3 separate regions of the Homo sapiens genome follow, and all the other regions are linked to region 1. Evidence: fine-mapped expression QTL. A gene starts in region 1. Each other region holds a variant in brackets. All regions are shown on one strand. Distances are between the middles of the regions. Region 1 holds the start of SLC4A7 (solute carrier family 4 member 7). Region 2 has its middle 100 kb from the start of LINC02084. Region 3 has its middle 75 kb from the start of SLC4A7.

Evidence for each region.
Region 2: its variant is fine-mapped to the expression of SLC4A7 in whole blood (INTERVAL, PIP 0.97).
Region 3: its variant is fine-mapped to the expression of SLC4A7 in whole blood (INTERVAL, PIP above 0.99). The same link has a PIP of 0.9 or more in blood mononuclear cells and monocytes.

Annotation. Positions count from the first base shown.
Region 1 is chr3:27,482,201-27,489,303 of GRCh38, reverse strand. SLC4A7 (solute carrier family 4 member 7) reads left to right here and starts at 4,920. Exons shown (of 26, transcript NM_001321103.2): 1 at 4,920-5,237. The coding sequence starts at 5,178. It also overlaps the pseudogene UBA52P4. RefSeq lists enhancers at 4,262-4,391, 4,870-5,646, 5,662-5,721, 5,752-5,961, 6,122-6,181 and silencers at 4,522-5,001, 5,032-5,391, 5,422-5,491.
Region 2 is chr3:27,606,066-27,613,168 of GRCh38, reverse strand. No RefSeq gene overlaps it. Among named protein-coding and RNA genes, the nearest start is that of LINC02084, 100 kb to the left of the region's middle. The variant G/AG (reference allele first, on the strand shown) is at 3,333.
Region 3 is chr3:27,555,872-27,562,974 of GRCh38, reverse strand. No RefSeq gene overlaps it. Among named protein-coding and RNA genes, the nearest start is that of SLC4A7, 75 kb to the right of the region's middle. The variant A/G (reference allele first, on the strand shown) is at 2,774.

The DNA of each region.
Region 1 (7,103 bases):
CGGTATACAAGGCCTTTCCCTTTACATGAACCTGAGCCCACCTTTCTCCCACCTTGTGGTTTCCCAATCAGATAATAATTATAAGCATTTATTGAGTGTTTCTTGCATGTAGGTGCTATATTTGATGCCCTCATTTAATATTTATTGCAATTCCCTTGAGGAGGGTACCACTATTATCCCTAAAACATCTTCTAAAAGGAGGCTTTTGGCTGAGCGTGGTGGACTCAGAACTACATGCATTGCATTGTTGACAGTTGTTTATATATTGGTGTTTTGCACTCTGAACTCCATGAGATCAGGGACAAGTTCTGTTTTTGTTTTTATTTCCTCATCTTTTGAATATTTATCTGTATGCCTAGCCTATAGAAATAAAGAACAATGAAGTAATTTTCCTTGTGTCTTTGTCCCGTTGAGGCTGTTCTGGTACTCTTGAAAACACTATTCCAATGATTTTACTTTTCCTTATAGGATCAGATGATAGAAAACCTTTAAATATTAGCTATAACCAAGAAGAGGCAATGAAGATACATATAATTGCCAAAGAACCCTCTGCTAAAAGTTAAGAATGGTTTCACGTGGCCAGGTGCGGTGGCTCACACCTGTAATCCCAGCACTTTGGGAGGCTGAGGTGGGCAGATCACCTGATGTTGTCAGGAGTTTGAGACCAGCCTGACCAACATGGAGAAACCCCGTCTCTACTAAAAAATACAAAATTAGCCAGGCATGGTGGTACGTGCCTGTAATCCTAGCTACTTGGGAGGTTGAGGCAGGAGGATTGCTTGAACCAGGGAGGCAGAGGTTGCAGTGAGCCGAGATTGCACCATTGCACTCCAGCCTGGACAGCAAGAGTGAAACTCCGCCTCAAAAAAAAAAAAAAAAGAATGGTTTCACACTTTTCAAAATACCAAAGAAGCTGCTCTCTGTCTTTATAAACTATACCTTGGCCTATAGAGAATTGTTCTTGGGAAGACCGTTCACTCCTCAGGATGGGGATCTTGCCAAGGGGTTTTTAGGATTATCTACTGCTCCAGATACTCAGGAAGTATTCTGAATTTAGGATACAGCTAAAACTCATTAACTTTAGGTACTACCACTTCATTGCTACTGATGAATTTAGGTTTACATTTACCTTTGTTTAGCAAATGTTTCCCTGTGCCATATTTCAAATTAATTTTTTTTTTTTGAAACGGAGTCTGGACCTGTGCCCCAGGCTGGGGTGCAATGGCGTGATCTTGGCTCACTGCAACCTTGGCCTCCGGGGTTCAAACAATTCTCCTGTCTCAGCCTCCTGAGTAGCTGTGACTATAGGTGCCTGCCACCATGCCCAGCTAATTTTTGTATTTTTAGTAGATATAGGGTTTCACCGTGTTGGCCAGGCTGGTCTCAAACTCCTGACCTCAGGTGATCCACTTGCCTTGGCCTCCCAAAGTGTTGGGATTACAAGCATGAGCCACTGCACCTGGCCCCAGATGAATATTTAAAATATTCAAGAATACAATTTACCTTTCAGCACCTTGGAACACTTTATAGCCATCTCTGGTTGCACAAAAGCAATTTTAACACATTATCTTCTTGAATGAACTTTGGCTGAGGTTGAATTAAGTGGGCAACTGAGTGATAAATTTAATAATTCAGATCTTTGCTACATTCCTCTTCTAGCAGTTGGGATGAAATGAGGAGTGGAAAAAGTGCATGGCAACAAAGACGTCACTAAAAAAATATTTGTGGATTAAATAAACCAATAATTTTTTCTTCTTGCAAGATAGATGAACAGAAATTCATTGTTTAGCAAGGTCTGCCAAGCATACATTTTTAAGACCTTCTTGAAGCTGACTATTTAACACTTTCAACTCTGGCACCATGATTCTTGACTCCTACTTTGTTCTTGTTACTATGGCCACATGCTCAGCTGTCACCTAAGATGCTCTTAGATCTTAAGAAGAGCAGATGTATGCCCCACCTGTACATTTACTCATTTAACACATGTGCTGAGAGTTTACAGGGGCCAAACACTCACGTAGGCATAGGGATATCTGAGAAAAAACCAAAAACCAAAAACCAAATTTGCTGTACACATGAAGCTTACATGGAGCTCACATTTGTGCGTGTGTGTGTGTGTGTGTGTGTGTAGACAATAAGCATAATAAATCATAAAATATATAGAATGTTATAGCCAGATGCGGTGGCTCACACCTGTAATCTCAGCACTTTGGGAGGCCGAGGCAGGTGGATCACTGGAGGTCAGGAGTTCTAGACCAGCCTGGCCAACATGGTGAAACCCCATCTCTACTAAAAATACAAAAAATTAGCTAGGTGTGGTGGCGGGCGCCTGTAATCCCAGCTACTCTGGAGGCTGAGGCAGGAGAATTGCTTGAACCTGGAGGATGGAGGTTGCAGTGAGCCGAGATTGTGCCACTGTACTCCAGCCTGGGCAACAGAGTGAGACTCCATCTCAAAAATAAATAAATAAAAAAGAATGGTGCCAATAGTAAGAGCAGTTCCACTCACCAGAACTCAAAACCAGTATTTCTATGGGCTTCAGCTTCCTCATCTGTAAAATGGAGCTATAACATATTTTGTAGTATTGTTTTTTTGTTTGTTTGTTTTTGCTGCTCCAGTCAACGAAAGAGACACACTTTATTGAGGCTCCAGGGAGGCTGCCGTTCGAGGAAGGAAGAGCCTTGACCTTCTTGGGTTACAGGTTGTTGGTGTGGTCACACCTCTTGCAGCAGTTGACAGCACGGGGGTGCAGGCAAGCATAGCACTTGCGGCAGATCATCTTGTCACAGTTGTATTTCTGGGAGAGCTGGCAGAGGGAAGGCTCAATAATGCCACCTTACAGGCGCAGCACCAGGTGCAGGGTGGACTCTTTCCAGATGTTGCAGTCTGAGAGAGTTCGGCCATCCTCCAGCTGTTTGCCAGCAAGTATCAGATGCTGCTGGTCAGGTGGGATACCTCCTTGTCTTGAATTTTGGCTTTGACATTCTCAATGGTGTCACTTGGCTTGACGTCAAGAGTGATGGTCTTGCCCGTGAGGGTCTTCACAAAGATCTGCGTCTCTGCGTCTGCAGCTCAGTTGCCTTGCCGAAGAAAAAGATGACGGCAGATATTTTGCAGTATTGAGAGGATTAGAAATGAAATATGTTTGCCAAATGTCACAGTCTCTAATTGTAGGCCTCTTTACATAGTAGCTATTAATAGAGGCACATCTGCTCTTGTACAAGTAAGTGAACAATGTGTGCTGGACTGGAAGTAACTCTCTGGGAAATTTAGGACAAAAGGGGACTAGGGCCCAAAGAAGGAATGAGTCATCCAGCATACCTAGCTACCTATTGCTGACAAAAAGCTTTACTAATACCCAGTTGGAGATGAATAGGATGTGAGCTCTGGATCCGCTGATGTATTTATATATCCTTCCATTGCATGGCTTCAGTTCTTCCCAACTAAACCTCTCCTTATCTTTTTTTATTTTATTTTTTATTTTTTTGAGACAGGGTCTAGCTCTGTCACCCAGGCTGGAGTGCAGTGGCGTGATCTCAGCTCACTGCAACCTCTGCCTCCTGGGTTCAAGCGATTCTCCTGCCTCAGCCTCCTGAGTAGCTGGGATTACAGGTGCCTGCCACCATGCCTGGCTAATTTTTGTATTTTTAGTAGACACGGGGTTTCGTCATGTTGGTCAGGCTGGTCTCGAACTCCTGATCTCAGGTGATCCGCCCGCCTCGGCCTCCCAAACTGCTGTAATTACAGGCGTAAGCCACCGCGCCCGGCCAAATTTCTCATCTTTATGAAACACTCAAGAGAAACCTGTTAACAATAATGAAAATTATCAGCATGCTATGTGCCAGGCACTTTTATGAATATAAATCCCCTTAATCCTTCAATGAGCCTGCATGGCAGGTATTACAATCATCCCGTTACAGAAGGGATATTTGAGAGACGGCCTACAGGGTGGACTCAATAATGTGGCAGCTGGCCGGGTGTGGTGGCTCATGCCTGTAATCCCAGCACTTTGGGAGGCTGAGGCTGGTGGATCACCTTAGCTCAGGAGTTCGAGACCAGCCTAACCAACATGGTGAAACCCCGTCTCTACTAAAAATACAAAAAGTTGCCGGGCGTGGTGGCGCGCGTCTGTAGTCCCAGCTACTCAGGAGGCTGAGGCAGGAGAATAGCTTGAACCCAGGCAGCGGAGGTTGCAGTGAGCCGAGATCATGCCATTGCACTCCAACCTGGGCTGGTGCAAGACTCTGTCTCAAAAAAAAAAAAAAAAAAAAAAAAAGTGGCAGCTGTCGTGGTGCTCAGTGGGCGAGCAAGCACAGGAGGACACCTGGTCAAGTGTACCCCATCTTTCACGGTCCCTGAGTTGGGGTTCGTGCCTACTGGATTGACAGAAAAGAAACTTCCAGGAGTCGTGAAGACTCGTTAGTTGCTTCGGAGGGTTATCCTGGGCGTCCTTGACAGAGGTGGCGTCCTCCTTCCCTGCAGCCTCTAAAGAATGTAGTTAGGAGCCAAGGGAGGTGGTGACCCCCCACCCCATTGAGAACGTCAGGGGAGCTTCCGACTTGAAAAACTAGTTAGACGCTCAGCTTCGGTCAATTAAGCTTATACAAAGAGGGGCGGTGCGTCCTGAGGAGGTGGCACGGGGGAGGCGAGCGGAAGTCCGCCAGCCGCCGATTGGCTGGGACAAATGTCCGTCCCGCCTCCCTCCCGCCCCATCTCCCGGTGGCCTAGCGGCGCGGCCCGCGGGCGCGCTGAGGAGGCTGGCGGTGCCAGACTGGCAGGGGGCGTGACCCGAGGAGGCGGGGCGGGGGGGCGTGTCTTGCCTGGCCCCGGCGCCGGGCTCGTCACGGTTTGCGGCTCCGCCCCCGAACCCCTCCTCCTACGCGGCTCTCCTCCTTCCCGCTCGGTCCGCCGGTTCGCTCAGTTCTAGCTTCAGGTTCCACGCCGCGGCCTCGCTCTCCTACTAAAGCCAGCCCAGCAGTCGCAGCGCGCACACGCACGCCCCGCGTCTCCCGCGCCCGGCGCCCGGCTCTCCCCACGCGCGCACACCTCGCGCACGGACGCACCCACGTTTGTCCTCGCGCGCCGGGGGCTCGGCGGCGGCGGCAGGGGCAGCGGCAGAAGCAGGCAGACCGCGCGGGGCAGTACCGTAGCGGCCGTCACGGGCTGGCCGGCCGGCCATGGAGGCTGATGGGGCCGGCGAGCAGATGAGACCGCTACTCACCCGGGTAACGAGCAGGGTGAGGGCGCCGCGGCGGTGGGGCTCCTCCGCAGGGGGAGGGCGCGGGGCGAGGCAGACAAAGGCGGGGGGCGCGGCGGGCGTCGCGGCTCGGCCACCTCGTCCCAGGCCCGTCGCCCCTCCACCTCCCGGCGGCCGGCGCGCCTCGCCATCCCCTTTGTGTGGCGGCCTGGGGCGCGGGTGGGAGGGGGCCAGCGGCTGCGCTCGGGAGGCCCGAGTCGGGGCGGCCGGCGGCGCGCCGCGGGCATCCTCTGCGCGGCTCAGGCGGGACCCCGACATCCCCGCAGAGGCCGCCTGTGACCCCGACCATCCATCCCTTCCCTCAGCGCTCGCCTCCCCTGTTTCTTAGCGCGCTCCCCAGGCGGGGTCCCGGTTCCGGTTGCCTTGGCGCAGGAGTTTCAGATTAGCCCTCGAAAACCTATCTTTCTTCTCCTTCTAAGGAGGACGGCGGCTCCACCTGTCTCTAGCCCCAGGCAGTGGTGAAGAGCTGGTTGAATCTTTCCCCCTCTTTCCGAGTGTCCCCTCCCGCTCCGCGGTGCGCTTTGTTCGGTGAGTTCTCCGGCCGCGTGGACTGGCCGCGCTCCTTCCCGGCCAAGGCTCTTTCGCTGTTGCCTGCCGGGTCCGCCTTCTCCACTGGCTGGGACCCGGGGAGTATCCTCCTGCCGCAGGCCAAGTAGAAGGAGGAGGGTGTCCTGAGCTGTCTGGTGCTCCTTCTCTAACTCAGCTAGCAAGATCGCGTTTCCTACTGAGACTGGCTTTGATTTCAGGGTTAGAAGAGAATGGGGATGGACTTAAGGCCGGTGTTCCCATTTGTGATGATGGGTGAACGGCCCATGCTCAAGAAGCGGACTTCCTGCTTTCTTTAGAGCACATGCGTCCCCGCAGTTGTCTCTTTCTCCTTTCCAAGTTCGTGACTCAAAGGAGATGGAAGTATTCTAAATTTTCCTACTTCTAATTTTTACTATGCAACCAGCAAAGGCGGGAAGGTTGCAGGGAAAATTGTCCGGTCTTTCACAACTAAGAGGAAAATTACTTCTCCTATGTTTTTATTCAAGAGTTGTCTTTAAAACTGCCTGCCGGCTTTCCCTTTTAACTTTTAGGATTATAGTTAAGGTTATGGAAAGTAGTCATTCATTAGTTCAGTACGTTCATATAAGTTCTCTAACATAGAAGAAAACTCAGTCACCAGACAGTGAAGTCATTTAGCAGTGGTTATTGGAAGATAATTCACAGTGATGGTAATGGAATACTGGAAACTCATCCTAAATAATCTGTAATTATTATTATTATTATTTTGAGACAGAGTCTCGCTCTGTCGCCCAGGCTGGAATGCAGTGGTGCGATCTCGGCTCACTGCAACCTCCTCCTCCCAGGTTCAACCGATTCTCCCGCCTCAGCCTCCGGAGTAGCAGGAATTACAGGCACGCACCACTATGCCCAGCTAATTTTTTGTATTTTTAGTAGAGACGGGGTTTTGCCATGTTGTCCAGGCTGGTCTGGAACTCCTGACCTCAGGCAATCCACCCGCCTCGGCCTCCCAAAGTGCTAGGATTACAGGCGTGAGCCACCGCGCCTGGCCTTCTGTAATTCTTTGTGTAGCCTTTGAATAAACTGTTTTATAGTACTTTCTCTGTGTATTTCAAGTATGATGTTGTCTGTTCTTAAATTTATTTGCAAATTTTCAATTGAGCAGTAAAGTGCATTCGAGTTTTCACGGAGCTGGATAGAAACTATGGTGTGTTCTCAAATATTGCCTGCCTAGCTAGTAGAGAAAGCATGTGATAAGGCCATTGCCCTCCAAGTTATTCATTCATTCATTGTAATAACACTTATTTAGACTAGTGTTTATGCTATTTAAACTATTATT
Region 2 (7,103 bases), 120 kb before region 1:
TCCTGACCTCATGATCCGCCTGCCTCGGCCTCCCAAAGTGCTGGGATTACAGGCGTGAGCCACCGTGCCGGGCCAATGGTCACATTTTTATTGCTCTCCTTTATACTGCAGTAATTTGTGATCTGTTTTCTTGTTTTTGTTTTTTGGTTTTGGGTTTTTATTATTTTGTTTTCTTTTGTTTTGAGATGGAGTCTCCCTGTGTCACCCAGGCTGGAGTGCAGTGGCGCAATCTCGGCTCACTGCAAGCTCTGCCTCCTGGGTTCATGCCATTCTCCTCCCTCAGCCTCCCCAATAGCTGGGACTACAGGCGCCTGCCACCACGCCCAGCTAATTTTTTGTTTTTGTGTTTTTAGTAGAGATGGGGTTTCACCGTGTTAGCCAGGATGGTCTTGATCTCTTGACCTTGTGATCCACCCGCCTCACCCTCCCAAAGTGCTGGGATTACAGGTGTGAGCCACCACACCTAGCCTTTTATTATTATTATTTTTTTTTTTTTTTGAGATAGGGTCTTGCTCTGTGGCCCAGGCTAGAGTGTCATGATCTTTGGTTCACTGTAACCTCTAGCTTTGGGCTCAAGTGATTCTCCCAATCCAGCATCCTAAGTAGCTGAGACTACAAGTGCACCACCATGCTTGGCTAATTTTTAATTTTTTTGGTAGGATGAAATCTCACTGTATTGCCCAGGCTGTTCTTTAATTTGTGTGCTCCAGTGATCCTTCCACCTCAACCTCTCAAAGTGCTGGACTTAAAGGCATGAGCCACCATGCCCAGTTGATTTTGTCCTTCTTAAACTTCAAGATTCTTAAGGGTGGATATATATTTATTTCATCCTTTTGTGTGCATAGGACCTGCCCCTGTACAGAGCAGATAACCAACAAATATTGGTATAATTTTTTTTTTTTGAGATGGAATCTCACTTTGTCACCCAGGCTGGAGTGCAGTGGCTCAATCTTGGCTCACTACAACTTCTGCCTCCCAGGTTCAAGCAATTCTCATGCCTCAACCTCCTGAGTAGCTGGGATTACAGGTGTGTGCCACCATGCCCAGCTAACTTTGCATTTTTAGTAGAGACGAGGTTTCACCATGTTGGTCAGGCTGGTCTCAAACTCCTGACCTCAGGTCTGATCCGCCCACCTCAGCCTCCCAAAGTGCTGGGATTACAGGCATGAGCCACCACGCCCAGCCCAAATATTGATACAAATGAGTTTAATCTTGGTAGAATCCCCCTAGGTCCTGCTGTGACACCTAATGTTTCTCGGCCAAGGATGCAAGGAGGAAGGAAGGAAGGAAGGAAAAGAGGAAAGCCAGAAGGAAGAAAGGAATGCAGGGAAGGAAAAATACTGTTTTTACTCAAACACGTTTAAATACTAGAGCTTCTTAGTAGGTGTGAAATGCTCTGTTGAAATCACGGTAACATCATAATAATACGGAACCCAGTGTTAGCTTCCCCTAAAGATAAAGGTCATTTTAAACAAGAACTGAATAAACACCGTTCTCTCCCTGCCTGCTGCCTCTTCCTATGCATTTTACAATCATGCATAGAAAAAGTGTCCTTTTCTATGTACGTGTCATTTTCTATGCATGGTTGTAAAATGAGTAAACAAAAAGACACTTACTGCAATTTAGGATACAGATAAGCTTGTTTCCTTGCAACTGAGTCTCATTTCGTTTTGATTCAGAACCCTAATGTTGCTTGGGTTTTCTCTATAGCTTTAAGATTGTGAATGAAGAAAAATAATAAAGTGCTGCTTTATCCCTCTGGAAGTGCCATGACTTCTCTGGTATGTGAACATCTGTATGTTCTCTCCTTAGAGCGGGAACCTTGGTCATGTGATGGCGTTTCCTCCAAATATAACATCCATCTGTCCGGATCTGGATTTTTCATTATCAAATAGATTCTGCAGCTTTCTGCAGTAGCTTCTTCTGCCTTCACTGCAAGGCTGCGATAAGCCACAGTCCTCACTCGCTCACACTATGCAATTATAAAGATTTGGGGGAAGACAGTCAAAAAGAAAATCAGTCTTGAAGTGGTAGCAAGAGTGATTTCCATAAACTGTAAAAAGATTTCCTGACCAAGAAGGTAGCCTGAGAACACAGGCTCAAAGACATGTGGTCTTAGTCCCAAGGCCTATGCAAAGCACACAGCACAGGAAATAAAGGGTTTTTTTTTTTCTAAGACAGTCATATGTTAGATGCCAACAAAGCTATGATGGAATCTGATGCCTTTTGGGTACGTAGTTGATGTGAAACAGAACCCATTTGGGGGTTTACTTGGTAGGATTTGGGAACCTACCCAAAATGTGTAGACAGAATTGATAGGGCCTGGTCAAAGCAGGAGGCTCAGCCTAGAGAAGCGGATATGACTAGGTCCTAAGTTCCTCAAGATATGAAGACTTCAGGGATTTAAATTATGTATCAAATTTTGTACATTTTCCTGGAACAAGAATCCATCCCTAGAAAGTAAAAATTTAACTGTAGTTGACCAAGGAGTTAGACTCTCTAAGTAGGCAAAGAGAGAAAAAAAGAAAGCAGGGGCTGGTCCTATGGAGGTAAAAATGTGACAGTGAGGGACATTGTGGAGGGCCAGGAAGTTAAAATTCACAGCCATTCTATCTAATGTATCAGGGCCTTCCAGGAGAGGTGAGTGGGTCAAATGTAAAGAGTGAGGGTCTAGTGGCTGTGTTTATCTCATCCCTCTGGCGTACCCCACTGTGATCTCACAGACTTCTGAAGGGCAGAGACTTTATGATGTGGCACGATCAGATATCCTCTGACTCTTGAATATTTAATGATGGGATGCCTTCCAGTTGCTCACTTCCTTTGTTACTTATAGTCCCCATGATCTCAATAGGATGGAGATGCTATGGCTTTATTCCAGAAACTGTCCTACAGCAGGCCTCAGATAAAAACTAAAGGAGGGAGAGTGGTAAACACATTGACGATGGAGGTGTAAATGGTAGCTATTTTCACAATCTGATGTGAGAAGGTTCAAGAGCATCATTGTCCATTGATTTGCTGTAGACAATTTCAGATACCACACCATTACCAGGATCACTGAATGGTGTTACAGCTTCACTTCCACTACATGGGAAATACATCAGTCACCAATACTTCAGTGTGAATCAGTATTCCCTGTTTTCCTCAACTGAGACTATGTTGAGAAGGCATGCTTTTAAATAAGAGTGAGGAGGCCTGTAATCCCAGCTACTTAGGAGGCTGAGGCAGGAGAATCACGTGAACCAGGAGGTGGAGGTTGCAGTGAGCCAAGATGGCACCATTGCGTTCCAGCCTGGGCAACAAGAGCGAAACTTTGTCTCAAAAAAAAAAAAAAA[G/AG]ATCTAATGTTAATGGACTGAGTGGGGAAACCCAGCAAGGCCTGTCTGTCTAGATTCTTCTTGGCCTCTCTGAGCATGGATTCCTTCTTTCTGGGTATGGGGCGGGATCCTCTCTGGAATGGGGGTATTATGACCTACAATTTCTTTATGGCCAGATTTTACACAGAAAGGCAGGGGAGGTGGGAAAGAAGTTCGAGTAATATTTTTAGGTTTTATGTCTGGCTTTGGGGAAAAGGGGTTCTGGTTTCTATGACTGTCCTTGGGGAAGAGGGACTCCAGTTTCTACGGGTAGCCATTGGGGAGATTGAGGGGCCAGAGACAGGAGGGTGGGAGAAAGAGAGAGAGAGAGAGAGAGAGCTGCCTCTGAGGCCTTCATTTTGAGGTATTGTTTTTTTGTGGGTCTACACAACCATAAAATGGACCTGACAAAGGGCCTAATGGAAATAAACTGAGACCTTGATGCTACTGTAAACCAGCACTGAAACCTGAATCACCTTTGCTTAAGTGAGTCTTGATATCACCTGCATTGTTTAAGGCACTTTAATCTCAAACCCAATAATGTCTGTGGTCTAATGCAGGAAATAATATAGAAACCAAGATTACATTCCGTTCTTAGGGCTGGTCCTGGGCCAGTCTAAATCCAGTTAAATTTGCTTCTAGGGTCATTCAAAGCATCCCTCGCCTTGCTGCTGGCTTTCTATTGAATCCGTCTTCATTTACCCACTGTTTCACTCCTTCTATTCTGCTCTCATCTTTTAAATGTTTTTATCCTTCTCCTCATTCTTATTTATTTTTAATTTTATTTATATTATATATATATATATAGTGTGATAGAATTTTGCTGTTTCGCCCACGCTGGAGAGAAGTGGCTCAATCTCGGCTCACTGCAAACTTTGCCTCCCGGGGTTCAAGTGATTCTCGTGCCTTAGCCTCCCAAGTAGCTGGGCTGGGATTACAGGCATGCACCACCATGCCCAGCTAATTTTTGTATTTTTAGTAAACACGGGGTTTCGCCGTGTTGGCCAGGCTGGTCTTGAACTCCTGACCTCAGGTGATCCACCCGCCTTGGCCTCCCAAAGTGCTGGGATTACAGGCGTGAGCCATGCGCCCAGCCCAGCATTAGATCTTATCCATTTTGTCCAGTCATATTTCTACATGGCTGTGCATACTTTTTTTAACCTAAGCACAAAAATGGACAGTCTCCCCTGTACCTTTGGGTCTTCATTCTGAAGGCTCCCATGTCACATAAAATTTTTATTAAATGAATTTGTATGATTTTTCTCCTATTAATCTGCCTCTTGTCCGTGATTTTCTGCAAAGGTTCAGAAGGCAAAGGGGAAGCTTTTCCTTGGTCTCTGGTTGCCACCAATCCTTCATACTTCCTGACTTCCATATTCAGGGAGAGAGAAGAAATAAGCCAGGCACAGTGGCTCACGCCTGTAATCCCAGCATTCTGGGAGGCTGAGGTGGGTGGATCACGAGGTCAGGAGTTCGAGACCAGCTTGGCCAATATGGTGAAACCCCATCTCTACTAAAAATACAAAAAAAAAAAAATAGCTGGGCATGGTGGTGCGCACCTGTAATCCCAGCTACTCAGGAGGCTGAGGCAGGAGAATCACTTGAACTCAGGAGGCATAAGTTGCAGTGAGTCGAGATCGCACCATTGCACTCCAGCCTGGGCGACAGAGCAGGACTCCATCTCAAAAAAAAAAAAAAGTCCTAAATGAAACACAAATATTTAGGCCAGGAGCAGTGGCTCACGCCTGTAATCCCAGCACTTTGGGAGGCCAAGGTGGGCAGATCACGAGGTCAGGAGTTCCAGACCAGCCTGGCCAACATACTGAAACCTGTCTCTACTAAAAATACAAAAACTTAGCCTGGCGTGGTAGCAGGCATCTGTAATCCCAGCAACTTGGGAGGCTGAGGCAGGAGAATCACTTGAACCCGGGAGGTGGAGGCTGCAGCGAGCCAAGATCATACCACTGTACTCCAGGCGGGCAACAGTGTGAGACTCTGTCTCAAAAAAATAAATAAATAACAAAATAACAAAACAAACATGGAAATTTATTCCCCAAAAGCTCCCAGAAAATTAAATTCTCATGTGTCATTGTTCATAATTTGGTCACATGCCAGTTCCTGAATAATTTCCTGCAGTGGGGAAATGCCAAGTGTTGATTAACCCAAACCAACAACCAATCTCTTTAGCAAAGGGGTTGAGACAGGATTAAACAAACATGGCCCACCCATGGAGCTGGAGGTGGAGTCAATTTTCTGCATGCCAAAGCACATAGCTGCTACCCAGTGGGAGAGAGTCAACAAATGTCCATTTTACTACTCTTTTACTAGTTTTAGTTTTTGACAAATATTGAGAGTAAAGAAAAAGGAACTACAATATTTAGTGCCGCTTATGTTTTACATATGCTAACCCATTCAAGCCTTACAACTTACAACATCTTTTGAGGTATTATGATTTCCATTTTACTGATAAGAAAACTGAGACATCAGTTAACTTACCTATACACAGCTAGTAAAAGGTAGAGCTAAAGCACACACCTAGGTCTGCCCACATTCAAATAGTCTTACCAACTGTTGTCTGATAGATGATTACTAATCTATTGTCTGAGGAATACACTGTTATTTATGAAAAGCAGAACTCAATTCATTTTAGCAAGCATTTATTGAATATCCACTCTGTATATGGAGCACTCTGCTAGGCCTTGCATTTCCCTAGGTAAGGTACATCCAGAAGTGTACAGAAATTTCCAGTCTGCAAAATGAAATAATAATTAGATAGTGAAAAGCAAACAAATATCAGGCAGAGAAAAAGTGTGATTGGGGAAATTGGTGAATGTGAGATATGGAGTGTGCGTGCTCCATCTATAGACCTCTAGAATTCATGCTACCCATGCCTAGATTTTGTTCACAGGTCCCAGGGTACAAACTTCAGCTTAACAGGAAGTTGAGCATGGTTCCACATCAGATATGTGCTTTCATGGAAAATAAGTACAGTTCCAAGTGCCTCAGTCAGGGTAACCAATATTTGACGTGTGTATTGCTATTCAACCATCCTCTCCACACACACACATACCTTACCCACCATGTCAGACATTACTAATCAATTGCTGCATTTTTTAGCTCTGAATCTGAATATGCTCTCATAATTCTTGTGCTTTATCTCATAATTCTTGTGACCCCTATATCGTCAGCATTTAAAATTGTTCAAAGAGGCCAGGCACGGTGGCTCACATCTGTAATCTCAGCACTTTGGGAGGCTGAGTTGGGAGGATCCCTTGAGCCCAGGAGTTCAAGACCAGCCTGGGCAACATGGCAAAAATCTGTCTCTACAAATTAGCCAGGCATGGTGGTGCACGCCTGTGGTCCCAACTACTCCAGAGGTTGAGGTGGGAGTGTAGCTGCCCAATGGGTTCTCCTTGCCCGCTGCCTAGACAGAGCTGATTTATGGAGAGAGAGGAATTGCAATACAGAAAGAGTTTAATTCACACAGAGCTGGTTGTACAGGAAACTGGAGTTTTTATTACTCAAATCAGTCTCCTCGAGAATTCGGGGATCGGAGTTTTTTGGGGTTTTTTGTTTGTTTGTTTGTTTGTTTGTTTGTTTGTTTGTTTTGAGACAGTCTCTCTCTGTCGCCCAGTCTGGAGTGCAGTGGCGCAATTTCGGCTCACTGCAACCTCCTCCTCCCGGGTTCAAGCGATTCTCCTGCTTCAGCCTCCTTAGTAGCTGGAGCTACAGGCATATGCCACCACGCCCGGC
Region 3 (7,103 bases), 74 kb before region 1:
TGAGATCATGCCTCACTGTCTCAAGAAAATAAATAAATAAATAAATAAAATAAATATGGACAAGGAAAGTTGTGTTTCGCATTTCTTTCTATCTTTTATTTAAAAAAAAAAAAAAAGCTGGAAAAATCTTTGACTATGAGCAGCCCTACTTCTAATGTCTTTAGCTTTCACACTTTTCCCAAAATTATGTTCCTAAAACTAGCTCTGGTGGCAAAGTGCGTGGCATTCTAGGGTTCAAAATCCGTGTAACGTTGACCAAGTTTATTAACCATTCTAAGCTTTAGGGAATAATAACAGTACCCATGTCATAGGATTATTGATAGAATAAAAGGAAGTAATTTATGAAAAATGCTTAGTACAAAGATGAGCAAATAGTATTAATAAGTATTTAATAAACATTAGTTTTCATTAGTAATGCTACTATTATCATCCTCATACTTATTGTCATCACCATTCTTATTATTATTTTATTCATCCTACCTCAAAAAGTCCTCATGGCTCACTAATGCCCACAGAATGTTGTCTGAACTCTACAGCAGGCATTTAAGCCAATCATCTTTTAATGCATCTGTGTGTGTGTGTGTGTGTGTGTGTGTGTGTGTGTGTGACAGAGTCTTGCTCTGTTGCCCAGGCTGGAGTGCAATGGTGCGATCTTGGCTCACTACAACCTCCGCCTCCTGGGTTCAAGCTGTTCTCCTGCCTCAGCCTCCTGAGTAGCTGGGATTACAGGCGCTCACCACTAAACCGGCTAATTTTTTTAGTAGAGACGAGGTTTCACCATGTTGGTCAGACTTGTCTTGAACTCCCAACCTCAGGTGATCCTCCCGCCTTGGCCTCTCAAAGTGCTGGGATTACAGGCATGAGCCACCGTGCCCAACCTTATTGCATCTCAATTCATTCCCTGTATCCCATTACCACCCGCCTGCCCCATACTACAGCCTCAGCAAGCCATTTACTGTTATCCCTCATGCTTTACCTAAGACCACTCCTATTTCTTGGCCTGGCTGTGGCTCATGCCTGTTATCCCAGCATTTTGGAAGGCCAAGGCAGGAAGCTCTCTTGAGGCCAGGAGTTCGAGACCAGTCTAGGCAACATAGCAAATTTTGTCTCTACAAAAAAATTTTAAAAATTAAAAAATCATCTGGGCATGGTGGCACCCGCTTGTAGTCCCAGCTACTCAAGAGGCTGAAGTGGGAGGATTGCTTAAGCTCAGGAGTGTGAGGCTGTGATGAGCCATGATCATGCCACTGTACTCCAGCCTGGATGACAAAGCGAGATGCTGTCTCAAAAATAAATAAAGCCATTCCTTCTTTTTGTATTGCCTTTCTCTCAAATTTCTGGCTGTCAAAATATTACCTGTCTTTAGGACTCAGCTCAAATTAGGGGCAGTACAGCATAGTCTTTTCTTTTTTTTTTTTTTTGAGACGGAGTGTCTCACTCTGTCATCAGGCTGGAGTGCAATTCTCACTGCAACCTCCGCCTCCTGGGTTCAACTGATTCTCGTACCTCAGCCTCCTGAATATGTGGGACTACAGGCACGCACCACAACATCCGGCTAATTTTCATATTTTTAGTAGAGACGGGGTTTCACCATGTTGGCCATGATGGTCTCGATCTCCTGACCTGGTGATCCATCTACCTCGGCCTCCCAAAGCGCTGGGATTACAGGCGTGAGCCTCCGTGCTCGGCCTTTTTTTTTTTTTTTTTTTTTTTTGAGACAGAGTCTTGCTCTGTCACCCAGGCTGGAGTGCAGTGGCCCAATCTCAGCTCACTGCAAGCTCCGCCTCCCAGGTTCACGCCATTCTCCTGCCTCAGCCTCCTGAATAGCTGGGACTACAGGCGCCTGCCACCACGCCCGGCTAATTTTTTGTGTTTTTGGTAGAGATGGTGTTTCACCATGTTAGCGAGGATGGTCTCGATCTCCTGACCTCGTGATCCGCCCGCCTCCCCTCGGCCTCCCAAAGTGCTGGGATTACAGGCAGGAGCCACCGTGCCCGGCCCTTTTTTTTTTTTTTTTTTTTTTTCTCTAATTAGCCCTAGTACTCTAGAAAACAGAGCCCAAGGCAGGGATTAAAGTGCTAATGCTTCCTTTGAGAAGTGCAAACCCACAGCAGCTGGGATGGGGAAAAGGGGAAGTGGGGCAAGAAAAGATGTGGAGCAATATAAAGTAATGTTTTACTCTGTTGTACAATATAAAGTAATATATTGCACAATATAAAGTAATATATAAAGTGCAATATAAAGTGCAATAATATAATGTATATATTATATATTAATATATATTAATGTTATATAATTATAATATTATAATACTATATTAAGGTAATATATAAAGTGCAATAATAATATAAAATTGCAATATAAAGTAATGTTTTACTCTGTTGTGCGGGTGCGTGCTCAGCACACAGAACTTCTCTCACATTGAGGTTGTCCGTGGAAGAGAGGAAGGTAGACGAAACCCTGTCTCCCGCTTCCAGTTGGCCAAAGTGTGTTTTTTGTTGTTGCGGTTTTGTTTTGTTTTATTTGAGACAGAGTCTCACCTTGTCACCCAGGCTGGAGTGTAATGGCGCGATCTCGGATCACTGCAACCTCTGCCTCCCAGAGTTCAAACAATTCTCCTGCCTCAGCCTCCGGAGTAGCTGGGATTACAGGCGCCCACCACTACGCCCAGCTAATTTTTGTATTTTTAGTAGAGCCACGTTGGCCAGTCTGGTCTGGAACTTCTGACCTCAGGTGATCCGCCCACCTTGGCCTCCCAAAGTGCTGGAATAAC[A/G]GGCATGAGCCACTGCACACGGCCCTAATTGGCGAAAGTTTGCTCTGCAGGCAGAAACTACCTTGCATTCCTGCTTGCATCATTCTTTCCTTTTGCCTATCTGATCCTATGCCCTGCAGCACAGCATTTCATCCAAATCCGGAAGCAGTGGGAGAAGCCAGACATTCTGGAAGAGCGTCTGCTTGATCCAGCTGCAGAGCACTAGCCAAGGGGGAGGGCCTAGTTTGTCCTCAGCTGCGGTATGATTGAGGAGGTGGACCATGCCAGAGGATATGAGAAGTCACAAAGCATCTGTGTCCGTGCAGCATCTAAGAGAGTGGGTTCTAAAGAACATAGGAAAAGACCATTTCCTACCACTCACCAGCTGCGTGACCTGGGTAAAACACTTTATGCCAATGTTTTTTCTTTTTTCTTTTACCTTCTTATTTTTAAATAATTCTAAACTTACAGGAAGTAGCAAAAATAGTACAAAATTTCCACTATACCCATCACTCACTGCTATGGACTGAATGGTGTCTCCCCACAATTCATATGTTAAAGCCCCAACCCTCAGTGTGATGGTATTTAGCCTGGTGCCTTTAGGAGGTGATTTGGTTTAGATGAGGTCATGAGAGTTGGGTCTCATAATGGAATTAGTGCCCTTAGAAGAAGAGGCACCAGAGAACTTGCTACCCCCCTGCCATGTGAGAACACAGTAAGAAGACAGCCATCTGTAAGCCAGGAAGAGAGTTCTTATTAGAACCTGATCATGCTGTACCTTGATCTTGGACCTCCATCCTCCAGAACTATAAAAAAAATAGACTTCTGTTGTGTAAGCCACCTAGTCCGTGGTATTCTGTTATAGCAGCCCAACCTGCCATATGTCACCAATTGTTAACATTTTGCTGCATTTGTTTTATCATTCTTTCCTTCTCTCTCTCTCTCTCCATACACATGAATGCACACACATCTAATTATTACAGTTTTCTGAAGTATTTGAGAGGAAATTTATGACATCATGCCCCTTTATTCCTAAATACTTCAGAGTAAATTTCCTATTAACAAGGACATTCGGCTGGGTAAGGTGGCTCACGCCTGTAATGCCAGCACTTTGGGAGGCCGAGGCAGGCAGATCACCTGAGGTCAGGAGTTCAAGACCAGCCTGACCAACATGGAGAAACCCCGTCTCTACTAAAAATACAAAATTAGCCGGACATGGTGGCACATGCCTGTAATCCCAGCTACTCGGGAGGCTGAGGCAGGAGAATGGCTTGAACCCGGGAGGCAGAGGTTGCTGGGCAACAGGAGTGAAACTCCACCTCCAAAAAAAAAAAAAAAAACCAAGGACATTCCTGGCCAAGTGCAATGGCTCATGCCTGTAATCCCAGCACTTTGGGAGGCTGAGGCAGGTGGATCACAAGGTCAGGAGTTCAAGACCAGCCTGGCCAAGATGGTGAAACCCAGTCTCTACTAAAATTACAAAAATTAGCTGGGCGTGGTGGCGAGCGCCTGTAATCCCAGCTACTTGGGAGGATGAGGCAGAGAATTGCTTGAACCTGGGAGGCAGAGGTTGCAGTAAGCCAAGATCACACCACTGCACTCCAGCCTGGGCAACAAAGCGAGACTCCTTCTCAAAAAAAAAAAAAACAAGGACATTCCTTATATAACCAGAAAATAATGATCAAAATCAAGAGATTTAGCATTCATACAATAATACGATTATCTATCTAATCTACAGTCCATATTGACATCTCACCAATTGACCCAGAAACGTCCTTTATAGCAAATTCTCCCCATGTTTGTTCTTATTTGGTTAATGGGAACAATGACAGTGCCCTCTCATAAGATTGTTATGAGAATGACATGGTGTGACATATATAAAACACTCCAATACAGTGCCTGGCTTATAGGAAAAGTTCGACAACTGCTAGCTACTTCTATCATGTTTATAATTTCTTCAGTGAAAACTTTTCCAGTCCCCTTTCCGTCAATTCAGAATCAGCCTCTTCCAACTATATTTTCTTATCAGTGTATTTCTACATTCTTGATTGTACTTTCACGTATAGCCTTTTTTTTTTACAAGCTTTTAAAGACCCATTCCTAATTCCTCTTTGCTTCTTCCAATGGCACCAAGCATAGCACCTTGTACATAATAAGCCTCCATCAATTTTGGCAGAATTTAATTTCTTTGGATGAAGTGGAGGGTTGATTAAGGTGACTAGAGGAAATGTATCTCACAGTATTGCAATAGTAGATACAATTCTGCTTTTAAAGAGTTTATGTTTCATGTCAGGGAGAAATACACAAGTGAAAAGTTACAGAAAATAAGAAGATAACATTATATATCTTAAAACAGCCTCTGAGAAAGGTTTGAAAAGTAGGAGGAATAAAGAAAGAGGAGTTCTGGGAGCTCAGAGAAGCAAAAGGATCACATGGGAAGGAAAATAAAAAACTTCCAGAGACTGCTCAGCATGGCCTCCTCAGCAGAAGGGACTTCACGGAGGCCTGATAAACTAAAGTACTAAAAGACAAAGTTCTCAGTTCTACTTTCCCAAGGCTGTGGATCTGGGAAAACAGTTGAATTACATCTTGGCCTTCCTTGCTGAGATTGGGTTTTGGCCAAAGGACATGAGCAAAAGTGATGTGAGCCATTTCCAGGCCTGGCCCATAAAAAGCTCCCATGTGTGATCTCCCACTATTTCCCATTCTCTAGTAGCTTTGGAGGCCACATGTAGAAGATATTAATGCACAGGTAGAAAGAACATGAGTCTCTGCGTGACTACATGGAGCAGAATCCCCAGCCCCATCAACCCATATTGCTGTGACAAGAATGAGGAATCAACTTTACTGCGTTCCACCACTGAAACATGGATGTCATTAGTTTCAGCAGCTACCATTACATGCCCTGTCCAGTGCACAGTTAGAACTGAAGGCCAGATTCAGAAAACCTGTGTTTATATCCTAGCTGTGCCACTTAGCTACAGGTGAGCCATGGCAAGTCACTTCGGCTCGGAACTGCTGTGAGGATTATATGGAAGAAGACTTTGTAAACTGTGAAAGTGCTATAAATGTTAGATACTATTAGTATTAGTCCATTCTTCCTAAGTTGGTGAAAATAACAGTTTCCAAGAATAGAATACAGGGATTAGTCATTCTTTCCAAACTAATAAAAAGAACACAGTCTGGGATCTCATGTTGCTGATATTAACTCGAGTTGTTGGAAAAGAAATTTGGGTGGGTCTATGGAAGGCCAATGATTCACTTCAGAATTCATGGAGTTACGTTACTGTTTTGTTCCTATGGAGAAACCTCTTTTTTTTTTCTTTTTTTATTTAGAGACAGGGTCTCACTCCATTACACGACTGGAATACAGTGGCAGGATCACAGCTAACTGTAATCTTGAACTCCTGGGCTCAAGCAATCCTCCTTCCTCAGCCTCCCAAGTAACTAGCACTATAGGAGTGTGCCATCATGCCCTGCTAATTTTTAAAATTTTTTATAGAGATGGGGGTCTTGCTATGTTGGCCAGGCTGGTCTCGAACTCCTTGCCTCAAGCAATTCTCCCTCCTTGGCTCCCCAAAGTTCTGAGATAACAGGCGTAAGCTACCGTGCCTGGCTAGGAAACCTTTTGTTTCTGAATATTTCATTAATTGTAGGTGTGAGGGTCAAGGGAAAGCTTTTTCTTTGGCCTTCTGAGAGTTATCTGAAAAGTCAAATCACGAAAGGCAAATTAACTAGAGAAAAGGCATACAAATGTACTTAACACATGTACAATGTATGCATGAGAAGTATCTCAGAGTAATTGCCCATCTCCAGTGTGGTTAGAAGCTTGTATACCACCTCCGCAAAACAGGCTATGGGAGGAGAAGAGAAATTCTGTTGAGGGGATTACAAGGGAGAATTAATAGATCTGGGAACAGGCATTAATTTGTTCTGCATCTATTTCTCTTTGAAGGTAAAAGGATCTGTTCAGATGTGGTAACATTCTTGGTCTTACTGGAAGGGGAAGAAAAACAATTGTTCCTTTTGGTGGGTTTGGATCTTAAGCAGATAAAGATTCTGGGAGAGGTGGTGGGGGGTGGGAGGGAGGGAGGGAGATCAGAGAGACCTTGAGACTTTTTTAATTTAGCATGTCAAAATGCCATATGTTGGTATTTTGGTTTTTGAGCCCCAACATAGGTAACTCCAACATTGGAATATCTTAAGAATTCAACTTTTAGGCCAGGTGTGGTGGCTGATGCCTGTAATCCTGGCACTTTGTGAGGCCAAGGTGGGAGGATCGCTTGAGCCCAGGAGTTTGAGACCAGCCTGGGCAACATGGCGAAACCCCACGTCTACAAAAAAAATACAA